Linked DNA regions of Homo sapiens: region 1 is linked to region 2. A link means that fine-mapping ties the variant in region 2 to the expression of a gene that starts in the linked region. Tissue or cell type: whole blood. Region 2 holds a variant in brackets; the other region holds the start of a gene. All regions are shown on one strand. Distances are from middle to middle.

Region 1 (8,102 bases), 77 kb after region 2:
GTTGAGTCAGGAGAAACACAAGCCCAGGTGGCAGAGGTTTCAGTGAGCTGAGATCACACCATTGCACTCTAGCCTGGGCGATGGAGCAAGACTGTCTCAAAAAAAAAAAAAAAATTAAACATGTGGAATAGCTAGATATTATATTAATGGGCTATTATCAAGAAAACTTACCTGGAAAAGTTTTATTCTACCAGCGTCACATTGAGTTGATATTAATAATCTTACGATTTTATACCATATCATGCTTTATACAACTCTTTTTAATCTGTTATCTCATTTAATCCCCCAGTAGCATTTTGAAATAGATACTGTTCAGTTGAGGAAACCAAAGCTAAGGGATTAAGTGCTTTGTTGAAAAGCACCGCAGGCCTGGCGCGGTGGCTCGTGCCTGTAATCTCAGCACTTTGGTGGATCACCTGAGGTCAGGAGTTTGAGACCAGCCTGGCCAACATGGTGAAACCCTGTCTCTACTAAAAATAAAAAAATTAGCCGGGTGTGGTGGCGCATGTCTGCAATCCCAGCTACCTGGGAGGCGGAGGTTGCAGTGAGCCGAGATCGCGCCATTGCACTCTAGCCTGGGCAACAAGAGTGAAACTCTGTCTCAAAAAGAAAAGCACCAGCAAGTTTGTGGCAGGAGTAGAACCTGAATCCAGGTCTTCTGACTGATGTTTATCCCCGTACACCTTACCTAACTGCAGTTCTTTATTGTTCCCATTCCCAGTTTGGATCGCTATTGGTTTTTATTACATATTTAGTTCCCTTTCCCACCTAAGTTAGCTCTAGTCACTGCATTCCTGTTATAATACTTCGATTCTGTTCCAGAGAGAAGTGGAGATCCTGATGTTTCTCAGTGCCATTGTGATGATGAAGAACCGCAGATCCAGTAAGTTTAGTTCACTTCTCAGACTCAAGGTTAGATCTAATGCCCTTTGGAGGTGCTTTGCTTCATGTTAAGAGAGTGGCAATCATTTGGTAAATTTGTCCTACGTTTAATTCCAAGGCTGAATTTGAACTTGGACTTCTATCCCCTCCCTGTCTCCTATTTCAAAGTGCCCCATGAAGAGGGACAAAGAATGGGATATAGGAGTGCACAGCCCAGCCTGACCTGTGACATCTCTGTGTTTCAGTCACTGTGGAGCAACATATAGGCAACATTTTCATGTTTAGTAAAGTGGCCAACACAATTCTTTTCTTCCGCTTGGATATTCGCATGGGCCTACTTTACATCACACTCTGCATAGGTGAGGAGACTGCCTTTCTTTCTTTTTTTTTTTTTGTAAGACTGTGTTGATAGACTTGATTGTGGAAACCACAGTCCCAACAGTTGCAATCCCAAACATGTTTCTCCATACCCTTCTTCCATATCTCATACCTAATGAATTATATATGTAGCTCAGATGATAACAGTTTACAGAGACTGTTATTGTAGAGGTAGGGAATGTGTTGGTGGTCTACATATATCCACAAGTGTGTATTATTTGGGGGCTGAAATCCTTGGGTTGGTTTGGAAGTAAATTCCCTGTGTAAGGCTTTTTATGTTTCCTTCGACATCTTCTTTCTGTATTTAGTGTTCCTGATGACGTGCAAACCCCCCCTATATATGGGCCCTGAGTATATCAAGTACTTCAATGATAAAACCATTGATGTGAGTGCTCTTTCCCCTTTCTGTTTCTTGGGTCCCTTGTGGGTGATTTTGTAGTTGTGCTCTCCATTCACTAGGAGGAACAACAGTGCTTCAAAATGGATGTCACGGGCACTGTGGTTCATTATGAGAGCCGGGGGAGAGGGAACACCAGGATGAGGAATTAGATGCTAAAGTCTGAACCTTCCCAGGAGGCTATGTGGATCCAGCTGACTTTTCTTCCCTGTATTTGGCAGGAGGAACTAGAACGGGACAAGAGGGTCACTTGGATTGTGGAGTTCTTTGCCAATTGGTCTAATGACTGCCAATCATTTGCCCCTATCTATGCTGACCTCTCCCTTAAGTGAGTAGTGCAAAGGGAGGGATGGTGGAAATGGAGATGCTGTGCCTTCCCTCTCACTGTTTTTGGCTTTTCTTTTTCTTTTGGCCTTGATTTTCACACATGGTAACCAAAGGCATCTCCCTCTCCCCTCTTAAATATCTATACTTCCACTTTCCTTGATCCATTATTTTTTTTCAGCATATTAAATAATATATTCTTTTCAGATACAACTGTACAGGGCTAAATTTTGGGAAGGTGGATGTTGGACGCTATACTGATGTTAGTACGCGGTATGTAAAGACCTGGGCAGAGGGTCTGAGCAGGGAAATCACTTTGAGTGATACATACAGGGACATTTAGAGAACTTTCTGGGCCCTGCAGGTACAAAGTGAGCACATCACCCCTCACCAAGCAACTCCCTACCCTGATCCTGTTCCAAGGTGGCAAGGAGGCAATGCGGCGGCCACAGATTGACAAGAAAGGACGGGCTGTCTCATGGACCTTCTCTGAGGTACCTGAAAGGAAGGGCAGGTGCATGAAGGGTGCAGAACAGTAGGTGGGCTTTCAAGCCCTACCCGGGTTTGATTCACAGCTCTGCCACTTGCCCATTAGCTTTGAGGGTGTGGACTAGTTACTAGACCTCATGTTTTAATTCATTTAGCAAATATATATTATGTGCAGACCTGCTAGTACTGGGTAACAATCATTAGTTAAGATTTGGTCTCAGGCCAGGCACGGTGGCTCACGCCTGTAATCCCAGCACTTTGGGAGGCCGAGGCTGGCAGATCACCTGAGGTCAGGAGTTTGAGACCAGCCTGACCAACATGGAGAAACCCCGTGTCTACTAAAAATACAAAAATAGCCGAGTGTGGTGGCGCATGCCTATAATGCCAGCTATTTGGGAGGCTGAGGCAGGAGAATCGCTTGAACCCGGGAGGTGGAGGTTGCAGTGAGCTGAGATTGCACCATTGCGGTCCAGCCTGGGCAACAAGAGACTCCATCAGGAAAAAAAAAAAAAGATTCTGTCTCGAAGGCCACTGCACCTATTGTCTGTAGGTGTTAGGTTCCCTGTCAGTTAATTGGAGGTAATAACCCCTGGCTTACAGGGTTGTTTTGCAGATTACATTAAATAATTTAGGTATAATTCTTGGCACGGTGATTGGCACATAATGGGTATTTAACTATTAGTTGACTTTTCTGGGTACCTAAAAAAGAGGAAGGTTAGGGAAGATTTTTGTCCTTTGCTTACTCCTTCCTTTCCCAGACTTTGTGTAAAATACCTCTTACTTCCCAGGCTCTTTACTCTCCCTTCCAACCCAGATCCTGACGTGTGCATCTCTTTTGTGCAGGAGAATGTGATCCGAGAATTTAACTTAAATGAGCTATACCAGCGGGCCAAGAAACTATCAAAGGCTGGAGACAATATCCCTGAGGAGCAGCCTGTGGCTTCAACCCCCACCACAGTGTCAGATGGGGAAAACAAGAAGGATAAATAAGATCCTCACTTTGGCAGTGCTTCCTCTCCTGTCAATTCCAGGCTCTTTCCATAACCACAAGCCTGAGGCTGCAGCCTTTTATTTATGTTTTCCCTTTGGCTGTGACTGGGTGGGGCAGCATGCAGCTTCTGATTTTAAAGAGGCATCTAGGGAATTGTCAGGCACCCTACAGGAAGGCCTGCCATGCTGTGGCCAACTGTTTCACTGGAGCAAGAAAGAGATCTCATAGGACGGAGGGGGAAATGGTTTCCCTCCAAGCTTGGGTCAGTGTGTTAACTGCTTATCAGCTATTCAGACATCTCCATGGTTTCTCCATGAAACTCTGTGGTTTCATCATTCCTTCTTAGTTGACCTGCACAGCTTGGTTAGACCTAGATTTAACCCTAAGGTAAGATGCTGGGGTATAGAACGCTAAGAATTTTCCCCCAAGGACTCTTGCTTCCTTAAGCCCTTCTGGCTTCGTTTATGGTCTTCATTAAAAGTATAAGCCTAACTTTGTCGCTAGTCCTAAGGAGAAACCTTTAACCACAAAGTTTTTATCATTGAAGACAATATTGAACAACCCCCTATTTTGTGGGGATTGAGAAGGGGTGAATAGAGGCTTGAGACTTTCCTTTGTGTGGTAGGACTTGGAGGAGAAATCCCCTGGACTTTCACTAACCCTCTGACATACTCCCCACACCCAGTTGATGGCTTTCCGTAATAAAAAGATTGGGATTTCCTTTTGATTGCGCGTTTGTGTGTTTCTGTATTAGAAAAGCCTGACAACTGCAGAGGAATTGCCCATCTTAAGGGCAAAGGCCATCCTATTTGGTTTCACCAAATGCCGGGCATTGATCCCCAGGACTGGCAAGAGTTGGAGAAGTCTAGTTTCCATAAATCTAGAATAGCGGCCACATGTTGTTAGGTGGTGGGTTTACTCTGGGATTGGCCTGCGGTTGCCAGGGAGGAGAGTTTGGCGGCAGATGGTGGCACACAACATTTAGCGCCATGCAAAGGTACAGAAAAGATTGCGCGAAGCGAGGCTAGCAGTCGGACCTAGTCTCCGCCCCTTCCTGCTGTGTTCACCATCCCAGCGTCCCCTGTCCCCTCCACCCGAAGCGATGGGTGGTTCCGTCAGGCGCTTCCCGCACCTTCCCGCTCCCTGCTTGCAAAGTGGTTGTGCCCCAAGGTCCGCCTCCAGGCCACGTGGGTGCTGCGGGCCAAGCTTTCCCTTCCTTTGAGAGAGGTTTCCGCTGTAGGAGCAGAGCTTCCGGGCTGCGCTCTTCGTTGCCCAGTTTCCGCTCAGTGGTCGCGTCTCCGCCCCCCACCCACCAGTCCCGCTGCATTCTCGGCCGGGCTCTAGGCGCCATGGCTCCCCGCGGGAGGAAGCGTAAGGCTGAGGCCGCGGTGGTCGCCGTAGCCGAGAAGCGAGAGAAGCTGGCGAACGGCGGGGAGGGAATGGAGGAGGCGACCGTTGTTATCGAGCATTGGTGAGGGGCCTGGAGAGTAACGGGAGAGAGGGAACAGTGGCGCCGGGGGGGGCCAGGGGCCCCGGTTTCTAACCTCTCCGTCTCTCCCTAGCACTAGCTGACGCGTCTATGGGCGCAACGCCGCGGCCCTGAGCCAGGCGCTGCGCCTGGAGGCCCCAGAGCTTCCAGTAAAGGTGAACCCGACGAAGCCCCGGAGGGGCAGCTTCGAGGTGACGCTGCTGCGCCCGGACGGCAGCAGTAAGTGGGGACCTGGATGTGGGGGAGAGGGACGTGGGTGAAAGGGACGTGGGTTCCGAAGACAGGAAGCGCTATTCTTAGAAACCACGGCAGTCTCATGACTTCAGAGACGTGCTCGTGGGTTCCGAAGTATTGTAACTTCGCTTCATTCTGGCCTTTCAGGTGCGGAGCTCTGGACTGGGATTAAGAAGGGGCCCCCACGCAAACTCAAATTCCCTGAGCCTCAAGAGGTGGTGGAAGAGTTGAAGAAGTACCTGTCGTAGGGAGATTTGGGTAGAAGCCCTCATGCTGAGGTTTGAAATGGGAAGTGGGGGGCGCGACCGCTGTTGAGGAAGAGAAGGCATTGATCTTGGTGTGGCTACAAGTACCCACCTGGCGTGGGTAGCTCACGCCTGCAATCCCAGCACTCTGGGAGGTCGAGGCAGGAGTGGATGGCCAACACAGGGAGACCCTATTTGAAAACAAAAAACAAAAAAAAGACACAATATTGTTTTCTGTCTAGTGTGCCCTAAGTGGAATTTATGTCCTTTGGGAGACTGTAGTTGACTTGCCCTGGGGGTATGGACAAGTTTTCCATTTGGAAGTTTATTTCATGTTACTTCATTTATGCTTATCCCTACCCTCTTCTGTTTGGTTCTTGGGTGTTCTGTTACTGTCCTGTGTTAACACTGCATTACAATACCATTAAATTTGGTTACAAGGATTTTGACCTTGTCTTTGTCCCTAGTGCTTCATACAGTGCTTTGGCATGTTGTTCTGCACTTATTATGTTGAGTGAGATTTGGAGGAAGGATGCAATCCTTGAGCTTCAGGGTTTGTGAGTTCAAGGGTTGGGGAACATGTCTTCCTCAGTCCTTAAGATTGCCCAGATCCTTTCTCTAACCTTATTTCCCTTCTCATTTTTGCAGCTTTGTGTCCCTGGTGATGTTGGAACATTAATGATGGAACATGGCCAAACTTCAGTCATGATCCTGAAGCCATGGTTTCTTCCCTGCCAGAAATGAAGGTTCAGTTATGAGGCAACCCTCTAGTAAGGCATTGTAAAAGTTACTGGATTTGGTTTAATAAAAGTTGAAATAAAGTATTTGAGTAATAGAGTAAAACTTAATCTTAAGGGATGGACAAAGCCAGCCTTGTGGAGTTGGTAGTCCTTGTGTTTTTCATAGCCCAAGATAGCCATGTGACCTGGAACTTTTAAAAAAAAATTTTTTTTTAAGAGCCAGAGTCTCACTTTGTCACCCATGCTGGAGTATAGTGGTGCTATCTCGGCTCACTGCAACCATTGTCTCCCAGGTTCAAGCGATACTCCTGCCTCAGTCTCCTGAGTAGCTGGGATCACAGGTGCACACCACCACGCCTGGCTAATTTTTTTATTTTTATTTTTAGTAAAGGCGGGGTTTCACCATGTTGGCCAGGCTGGTCTCAAACTCCTGACCTCAAGTGATATGCCTGCCTTGACCTCCCAAAGTGCTGGGGTTACAGGCATGATGAGCCACCGCACCTGGCCTGACCTGCAACTTTTATGATCTCTGGTAAAACATGAGAAATACTTGTAAAAATTATGGGAGCAAAGTAAATAATTTATTTTTTAAAAAAGCAACTGTATCTTTTTCAACTTACTTTTTGGAAGTAATGATGGAAGTACATCTTCTTGGCCCCTGCAGAGGTTTTAGCTAGACTTCCTAATACTGGCAGTGAATAAGCCCCACGTTGGGTGCTGGACAGCATCCATCACTCCCACCCACTTAGTATTCCACCCAACACTGCTTCACACCTTCCTCTGGAACATTTTCTTAAACAATACCCCACCACAGAGGAGGGTGTTCTTTCTCAGCTTTTCCTAAATTACCAGTGACTGGATGCCTTATGACCTGAGAGATCTGGCCTTGGCTGTTACCTATGACCCACCAGAATTGGGGAGCACACAGTTTGTTTCAGTTGTCACTAACCGGAAAATAGATTACAAATAAGATGGTACAAGTTCATAATTTTCTATCTATGGTACCCTTGGCTTCTGCCTGGCTTCTGAGGCTTAGGGAAGGGAGGAAGGGACCTACAAAGAGCCAGGGTACACCTGCCTCTTGTGCTGAGGGCACGTGCCAGCTTCTCTGCCAGTAAGCCTTTTGCTAGCTAACATTTCCCACCCTCCCAAGGCCCCTAACCTGCCCTCCCCTCTCCACTATGTTAGTATATCTACCTCTGTTTCTGACTCTGAGGAAGGGTCAGGCCACACGGAGGGAACAGTAGTGGGTACCAGCCTCCCCTCTGCTGTCCAGTCCACCACATCAATCTCTTCCTCTTCAGAGCTGGCAGGAAGTGAGCCTAGTAGTTCAGAGTGACCAGATACCTCCTTGCCTGCCTTGGGAGAAGGGTATAATAACTCATCTGTAGTCAAGGAGACTTCCAGCCCAGTCTCCACCCAGTTTGAGCAGGGAGGTGAGAGGTCCCCATAAGACCTCTGGGGAGTATCAAGGGAGCTGACATGGAGAAGTTTGTCTTCCTGACCATCCAGTGGCTGGGAGCTGGTAATTTCAAGGTCTGGTGTCCAACGGCCTCCTACTGAAAGCACTTCACTCACCTCAGAGGGCATGACAAGGGGGCTAAGGAGCTCAGTTGGCCCTCTGTTCTCACCAGCAGGTTCCTTTTCCAATTCTGTGAGCTCCCTGGGCCAGAGTTCCATGTCTGGTAGACACCATTCTTCCCCTTCAATCCAGTTCTTTCCTGTTTCTGTCAGATGGTAGGTAGGCGTTCTGCAGCCCTCAGCCCCTGGACTCTCCAGAGACCCTATAGGTGGTTCAATGTCTGAGCCACAGAGCATGAAGTCCAGGATCTCCTCCAGCTCACTGGTGGCAGCAGCACTTGTGATTCGGTACTCCTCAGCCTCACAGGGCTGCTCCAGCAGAGCTGTGTCAAATGCATAGGGTTCTCTGCAG
Region 2 (8,102 bases):
GGTGGCTTATGTCTCCAAGGACACTCCTATGTTGCTTTACCTCAACACTCACACAGCCTTGGAACAGATGCGGAGGCAAGCGGAAAAGGAAGAAGAGCGAGGTCCCCGAGTGATGGTAGTGGGCCCCACTGATGTGGGCAAGTCTACAGTGTGTCGCCTTCTGCTCAACTACGCAGTGCGTTTGGGCCGCCGTCCCACTTATGTGGAGCTGGATGTGGGCCAGGGTTCTGTGTCCATCCCTGGTACCATGGGGGCCCTCTACATCGAGCGGCCTGCAGATGTCGAAGAGGGTTTCTCTATCCAGGCCCCTCTGGTGTATCATTTTGGTTCCACCACTCCTGGCACTAACATCAAGCTTTATAATAAGGTCAGAGCCAGAGAAAGGTGGGGTGGAGGGAAGGGCTGCTATCAGGGTAGGAAACTGGAGAAGTTTACTAGTTAACACTGCATTTTCTCAGCTGGTATTTCTGCTGCATTACTTTAGAAAGGCAATTCCAAATATGTCAGTCTCAGATTGTTAAACATTTCTGTGGATCTATTCTTAGTAATTTGTTAGATTTTCACTTAGGGCATAAAACAGGAGGCAGAAGCAGCAACATAAAAATTAAATCCATGTTATGGTATCAAAACTACAGCCATTAAAAATGTCATTTTTTCAGGCTGGGTACAGTGGCTCATGCCTGTAATCCCACAACTTGGGAGGCTGAGACGGGTGGATCACCTGAGGTCAGGAGTTGGAGAGCAGCCTGGCCAACATGGTGAAACCTTGTCTCTACTAAAAATACAAAAAGTAGCTGGGCGTGGTGGCTGGTGCCTGTAATCCCAGCTGTTCAGAGACTGAGGCAGGAGAATCACTTGAACGCGGGAGGTGGAGGTTGCAGTGAGCTGAGATCGTGCCACTGCACTCCATCCTGGGCAACAGAGTGAGACTCCATTTCAAAAAAAAAATCATTTTTCTTATATCTAATAGCACTTATTCTAAAGAGGAACAAAGTAGCCATGGGTTTGTCTGGGTGTTTTTGTTCTTACCTTGATCCTCTCTTTTGCAGATTACATCTCGTTTAGCAGATGTGTTCAACCAAAGGTGTGAGGTGAACCGAAGGGCATCTGTGAGTGGCTGTGTCATTAACACCTGTGGCTGGGTCAAGGGCTCTGGTTACCAGGCTCTGGTGCATGCAGCCTCAGCTTTTGAGGTGGATGTCGTTGTTGTTCTGGATCAAGAACGACTGTACAATGAACTGAAACGGGACCTCCCCCACTTTGTACGCACTGTGCTGCTCCCTAAATCTGGGGGTGTGGTGGAGCGCTCCAAGGACTTCCGGCGGGAATGTAGGGATGAGCGTATCCGTGAGTATTTTTATGGATTCCGAGGCTGTTTCTATCCCCATGCCTTCAATGTCAAATTTTCAGATGTGAAAATCTACAAAGTTGGGGCACCCACCATCCCAGACTCCTGTTTACCTTTGGGCATGTCTCAAGAGGATAATCAGCTCAAGCTAGTACCTGTCACTCCTGGGCGAGATATGGTGCACCACCTACTGAGTGTTAGCACTGCCGAGGGTACAGAGGAGAACCTGTCCGAGACAAGTGTAGCTGGCTTCATTGTGGTGACCAGTGTGGACCTGGAGCATCAGGTGTTTACTGTTCTGTCTCCAGCCCCTCGCCCACTGCCTAAGAACTTCCTTCTCATCATGGATATCCGGTTCATGGATCTGAAGTAGAGATCAGCAGGAAGCCTTGCTGCCTGGGACATAGAGATCATCTGGCCACCCCTAGAGGCAGATGGGCTGAGATAAAAGACTGTTGGGGCCACCTGACCAGTAAACTGTGGACTAGTAGAAAGTTCATATTCTACCTCTAAAAACAGGTAGTGGTAACCTGACTCTTCTAATCTTGAACCAAAAGGAAAACCATGAGACTGTAATTGGTTTCTTAGACCACCTAAGATGCCACTTTGAATTCTCTAAGACCCTGGAGAATTGCATTTCTTTCACTGTGCTACTATGTGGTTTTTAAAAAATCAATGCTTTATATTCCATATGTGGTTCTTACCCATTTATCTAGGATGAAAGTGTGAATTAGAGGGACTCCTTCCAATAAAGTTCAAACTTAAAAAAAATCATTTTAATAAATATTTTTGCCATATCATAGAAGTTGGTATAATTTATTTTTTTCCCCTAAGCGTTATAGAAACATAATTGGAATGATTTATTGCTAAAATGCTTGGAGGAGGGGAAAACCAAGAAACCTACCTGTGAGCCACGTCAGGTTTTTTTTTTTGGTGGTGGTGGTGGTTGTTTTTGTAAGAGTCTCACACTGTCACCTGGGCTGGAGTGCAGTGGCGTGATCTTGGCTCACTGCAACCTCTGCCTCCCAGGTTCAAGTGATTCTCCTGCCTCAGCCTCCCAAATAGCTGGGGTTACAGGTGCCCGCCACCACGCCCAGCTAATTTTTTGTATTTCTTTTAGTAGGGACAGGGTTTCACTATGTTGGCCAGGCTGGTCTCAAACTCCTGACCTCATGATCTGCCTGCCTCGGCCTCCCAAAATGCTGGGATTACAGGTGTGAGACACTGTGCCCGGCTGTGAGTTCTTATGATAGTTCACCTTTCCTCTGCGCTTAGGTAAGTAGATGGTAAATCTGCTGTCAGTGCTGGATTTACTGTGGGGAGTTAGAGGCTGGTGATAATCTTGGAATGAGATTTCATATCTAATCATTTTCCAGAGATAGCTCATTTTCCTTCCAGTACAGCTATCCTTGTCTATTTGATTGGAACTAGGCCCTAAGTCAAAGTGTAACTTAAGCTTTCAGGTGGTAAGAAACTGGGAAAGCCCATTCTTTTTGATCTCTTGCAAATGACTGTTTGGTGTCCCTGGTTTGCACTTGGATTACTTAAGTATCTGATGCCATTCATCCATTCCTTCTTTTCATAAATGTTTACTGAGGACTGACTGTTTGTCAGGAGCCACTGTAGATGGGGAACAAGACAGACAAAAGTTTTATGGAGCTTACATTATAGAATAAACAAATTTAAAAAGGCAAGTGCTATGCAGAGACTTAAATTTGGGG[G/A]ATATGAGACAGAGTGACTGGAGGCTACTTTAGATTGGGTGGTCAGGAAAGGCCCTTCCTGAGCATACATTTTGGGCTAAGACTTGAATGGCTGTGTGAAGTCTGGGGCAAAACCTTCCTGGTGAGAAAAAACTGCAAAACCCTAATAAAGGAACAAGCTTGATGAGTTTGGTGAAGAGAAAAGCCAGTGTGGTTGAAGCTTAGTGAACCAAGAAAGACTGTACAAGATGAGGCTGGAGGGGGCAGCAAAGACCAGATAATGTAGGGCTTTTGTAAACCACGGTGAAGAATGGATTTTTTGGCCCAGGTGCCATGGGTGGTGGCCATGCCTTTAACCCCAGCCACTCAGGAGTCTGAGAATCCCTTGAACCCAAGAGGTGGAGGTGCAGAAAGCCGAGATTGCATCACTGCATTCCAGTCTAGGTGACAGAAGGACACTCTGTCTCAAAAAAAGAAAAGGATTTTTTATTTCTTTTTAAGAGATAGGGATCTCAGCCGGGCGTGGTGGCTCATGCCTGTAATCCCAGCACTTTGGGAGGCTGAGGTGGCTGGATCACTTGGGGTCAGGAGTTCGAGACCAGCCTGACCAACATGGTGAAACCCCATCTCTACTAAAAATGCAAAAAAAATTTAGTTGAGCGTGGTGGCACATGCTTGTAATCCCAGTTACTTGGGAGGTTGAGGCAAGAGAATTGCTTGAACCCGGGAGGTGGAGGTTGCCGTGAGCCAAGATCACGCCACTGCACTCCAGCCTAGGCAATAAGAGCGAAACTCTGACTCAAAAAAAAAAAAAAAAAAAAAGAGATGGGGCGTGTCTCACTATGTTGCCCAAGCTGGCTTTGAACTTCTGGGCTTAAGTGATCCGCCCACCTTAGTCTCCTGAGTAGCTGGGACTACAGGCTCATGCCACAGCACCTGGTTTAAGAATGGATTTTACTCTTAAGAGCAATGGGAACCAGAGGGGAGGGGTAGTTAAGTAGAGTAATTATTTGATCTTTTTTTTTTTGGGGGGGGACAGAGTTTCATTCTTGTTGCCCAGGCTGGAGTGCAATGGCGCAATCTGGCTCAGTGCAACCTCCACCTCCCAGGTTCAAGCGAGTCTCCTGCCTCAGCCTCCCGAGTAGCTGGGATTACAGGCATGCGCCACCATGCCCGGCTAATTTTGTGTTTTTAGTATAGATGGGGTTTCTCCGTGTTGGTCAGGTTTGTCTCCGACTCCCGACTTCAGGTGATCCGCCCGCCTAGGCCTCCCAAAGTGTGGGATTACAGGCGTAAGCCAGCACGCCCGGCTGATCTCCTCCCTCCCTTCCCTCTTTCTTTCTTCCTTTCCTTTCTTTTCCTTTCCTTTCCTTTCCTCTTTCCTCTCTCCCTCCTTCCTGCTCTCTTTTTCTTCTCTCTTTTTTCTTCTCTTTTTCATTCCTTCCCCTTCCTTCCTATTCCTTCCTTTCCTTTCCTTCCCTCACCTCCTCTCCTCTCTCCTCCCCTTCCCTCCCCCTTTCCTTCCCTCCTTCTGAGTTTTGCTATGTTGCCCAGGCTAGAGTGCTGTGGCATGACCTCGGTGCACTGCAACCTCTGCCTCCTGGGTTCAAGTTATTCTCCTGCCTCAGCCTCCTGAGTAGCTGAGTAGCATGCACCACCATGCCTGGCGAATTTTTGTATTTTTAGTAGAGATGGGGTTTTGCCATGTTGGCCAGGCTGGTCTCGAACTCCTGACCTCAAGTGATCCATCCGCCTCGGACTCCCAAAGTGCTGGGATTAGCCTGGCTGATTACTTTACATTTTGAAAAGATCACTGCTTTGTGGAGAGTGGGTTATAGGGCAAGTGTAAAAGCAAGGACAGTAATTAGGAGAGTTTTGTAAAAGTGCAAATGTGAGAAATGGTGGGGGATGAAATACTAGGGCAGCAGAGGTAGAGCTGGTGAGAGGATATTCTGAAGGCAGGACTTCATAACGGAGTGGTGAGGAAAACGATGGAATCAAGGATGCATCCTGGATTTTTTTTAACAAGACACACTAGGTTAGACATGAGATTGGGAAAACTCAGGGAGTTGTCCCCCTGAGGGACAAGGGAAACTCGAGGTTTTTGGCAGTGTTAAATATGAGCTATTAATTGTCCATGGGTGGCGGAGGTTGCAGTGAGCTGAGATCGCGTCACTGCACTCCAGCCTGGGTAACAGAGCAAGACTCCATCCCCCAGCACCAGAAAAAATGCAGGAGCGAAGGAGATAGGATCCACAGCACAAAGGGAAGAACTACCCTTTAACACATACAGAGACATTTCACAAGGACAGGAGGAAAGAGCAGTATTTAAACACAAAGAGGTTGACCAGGAGCAGTGGCTCAGACCTGTAATCCCAGCACTTTGGGAGGTCGAGGCAGGCAGATCACTTGAGCTCAGCAGTTGGAGACTACCCTGGCCAACATGGTGAAACCCTAAAAACACAAAAATTGGGAAATGCATGTTCTAGCTTTCTGTGTGCTTAGGTGCCCATGCTACTGAGGGTCTAAGTCCAGGCAGCCGAAGAGTGTGGTGAGCAAGATGAACAAAGATGCGCAGATGAGAGAAGCCATTAACATATTAAAGTAATTTAAAGTTTGGGTGGTCTGGATATCATACTGTTTTAGCCTAGATTTTACTCTGGATACTTTTCAGAAGTAGCTGGCACTTTAAACCATATGTTCTATTAAACGTTCTTTCCAAGAAATATCTTGAGTGATCCCAAGGAAAACTGGACAAGTGGAATCTCTGTCTTTCAACTTTGGGATAGTGATTATACCTCTGTTAGTGCTCATCCACCTAACAAAGCTTGGCAATCCAAGTTAGTATCCCAGGGGAGTTTAGTTTGGTTGGATGGTGGAAGACTGATTTTTTTTTTCCATTTAGCACTGTCTAGCCAAGAGACACCACTATTTACAAGTTCTTAGACAGCTGAAAGGAAAATAAAAATGCCTAATTTGTGGAGGAAATCAGGAAGTCTAAAAATCCAAGAAAAATATTGCAACAGAAAAATGAAAGCTGACTTCATCTTAAAGAAACATGGCTTACAGGTAGAAAATGCCAATATCAGGCCGGGCACTGTGGCTCACACCGGTAATCTCAGCACTTTGGGAGGCCGAGGTGGGAGGATCATTTGAGGTCAGGAGTTCCAGACCAATGTGGCCATCATGGTGAAACCCCATCTCTACTAAAAATACAAATATTAGCCAGGTGTGGTGGCACATGCCTGTGATCCCAGCTACTCAGGAGGCTGAGGCATGAGAATTGCTTGAACCCGGGAGGAGGTTGCCATGAGCTGAGATCGCGCCACTGCACTCCAGCCTGGGTGACAGTGTGAGACTCCCTCTCAAAAAGTAAAAAATAAAATATCAATATTGTATCTTCAATAATTTACCTTTCATATGGTCTAAAGAGGTTTTTGTTTTGTTTTGAGACGGAGTCTTGCTCTGTTGCCCAGGCTGGAGTGAAGTTGTGTGGTCTCGGCTCACGGCAACCTCTGCCTCCCGGGTTGAAGCAATTCTCCTGCCTCAGCCTCCCGAGTAGCTGGGATTACAGGCTCCCCCGACCATGCCCGACTAATTTTTGTATTTTTAGTAGAGGGAGTTTCACTATGTTGGCCAGGCTGGTCTTGAGCACCTGACCTCGTGATCCGCCTGCCTTGGCCTCCCAAAGTGCTGGGATTACAGGTGTGAACCACCACGCCAGGCCAGGTCTGTTTTAAAAATATAAAGTCGTTATAAAGAACTCTCAAGTGTGTTGCAATAAATGCTGGATTGACGCTGTTAACAAGAATAAACTAGAACTTATAATATATGCCATGTCAGAGAAGGAACTAGATTCCAGAAAACAGAAGGTAGTTCTCTTTTACCTTACTGCCTAATGCTAGTGTCAGAACCACAGTAAAGCCAGCAACATTTGAGACCAAACCCGAGGACAGTCCTCAGGATTTTACAGGTGAGGGGCCTCGGCTTCAGGGAAGTGGCTTGTGAAACACCTTTTTGAGGGACCATTATGTAATAGCTAGAGTTGCTTTCGAAAAAAGAAATAGCCTCGAGCCGAATGGGGAGAGAACATGGGGCATTGCTATTGGGTTCACAGCTGTCTTGGGCTAATCAGGGCAAAGCGTAGCACTATGACCTATGCAGAGTTAGCTCGCCAGGGACAGTAGCTATTCTAGAGAACCTTTTGCTTTTAGCTTTGTATTCTAGGATTGGGTGAGGTGAGGGATGCGGGCGCCCATCCCACGTGTGACAGTGGGAAACTAATGGAATTCAGGGAGTTCACTTCCCGGCTCGCACTCCGGGGGCGGGAGGGTGCTGCCACCGCCTCAGGTCGCGCGCTCCTTAGGCTTCCCTCTCACGGTTAGCGCTACGGCTCCAAGGCTGGCGCCTGCTCTTCTTCATCTCCCTCCCCGGCCCTTGGCAGGAGCCTCGCCCTACATTGGCTCTTCAAGTCCGGGCGTCCCCTTCATGTGGGAGACACAGCCCAGACCATTCCATCGCCCTGGATTCTGCCCGGACCAGCGACCTCGCCGGACTGAAGATTTCTCCAGCAAGATTGTTTTAAATAAAGTTTTTGCCATCAAAAAAAAAAAAAAAAAAAAAAAAGGAGATGGGAAGGAGAAGAGGGAGGCCTAGTCGCCAAATGGTTGGCCAATCCGCCGCGAAGGGGCTGAAGCAGGAAGCGGCGATAGTCGTCGGTAATTGGCTGCGCTGGAAGCCTGTCTGGACTGTACCACCTCAGTAGGAGAGGGGTTGCTGAATTCGAGAAGGTAGCTGCTTGCTTTTGAGTACTTCTAGTACACACACATAATTCTTTTCTTATTTCCGGGGGTTTTTGCTTGGATTCAGTGGGAATACAACAGGACGCAGGAGAAGGGAAGACTCGCCTGGCCATTTCCTCATTCCTGACTCCTGTGCATTAGGCCAATCCTTGTCTCTTAGTTGTCCCCGCAACCCCACGGCCTTACGTGCGCGCTCTCGTCTTCTCGCGTGCGTACGTCGTTGTGTTGCTGCAGCCAATCAGGCCGCGAGGT

The links. PIP is the estimated chance that this variant, and not a neighbour inherited with it, causes the effect.
Region 1: it holds the start of SELENOH, and the variant in region 2 is fine-mapped to the expression of SELENOH in whole blood (INTERVAL, PIP 0.92).

Annotation. Positions count from the first base shown.
Region 1 is chr11:57,736,786-57,744,887 of GRCh38, forward strand. It overlaps SELENOH (selenoprotein H), which reads left to right and starts at 4,706. Exons shown (of 4, transcript NM_170746.4): 1 at 4,706-4,932; 2 at 5,024-5,169; 3 at 5,332-5,462; 4 at 6,078-6,765. The coding sequence starts at 4,811. The coding sequence ends at 5,432. TMX2 (thioredoxin related transmembrane protein 2) reads left to right here. Exons shown (of 8, transcript NM_015959.4): 2 at 823-883; 3 at 1,128-1,241; 4 at 1,569-1,645; 5 at 1,879-1,985; 6 at 2,189-2,254; 7 at 2,346-2,475; 8 at 3,314-4,188. The coding sequence ends at 3,460. It overlaps BTBD18 (BTB domain containing 18), which reads right to left. Exons shown (of 3, transcript NM_001145101.3): 3 at 6,729-8,102. The coding sequence ends at 7,349. TMX2-CTNND1 (TMX2-CTNND1 readthrough (NMD candidate)) reads left to right here. Exons shown (of 21, transcript NR_037646.1): 2 at 823-883. RefSeq lists enhancers at 4,408-4,527, 4,848-4,897, 5,048-5,217.
Region 2 is chr11:57,659,716-57,667,817 of GRCh38, forward strand. CLP1 (cleavage factor polyribonucleotide kinase subunit 1) reads left to right here. Exons shown (of 3, transcript NM_006831.3): 2 at 1-367; 3 at 1,050-2,150. The coding sequence ends at 1,721. Among named protein-coding and RNA genes, the nearest start is that of ZDHHC5, 4.3 kb to the right of the region's middle. RefSeq lists a silencer at 3,226-3,295 and an enhancer at 7,451-8,030. The variant G/A (reference allele first, on the strand shown) is at 3,070.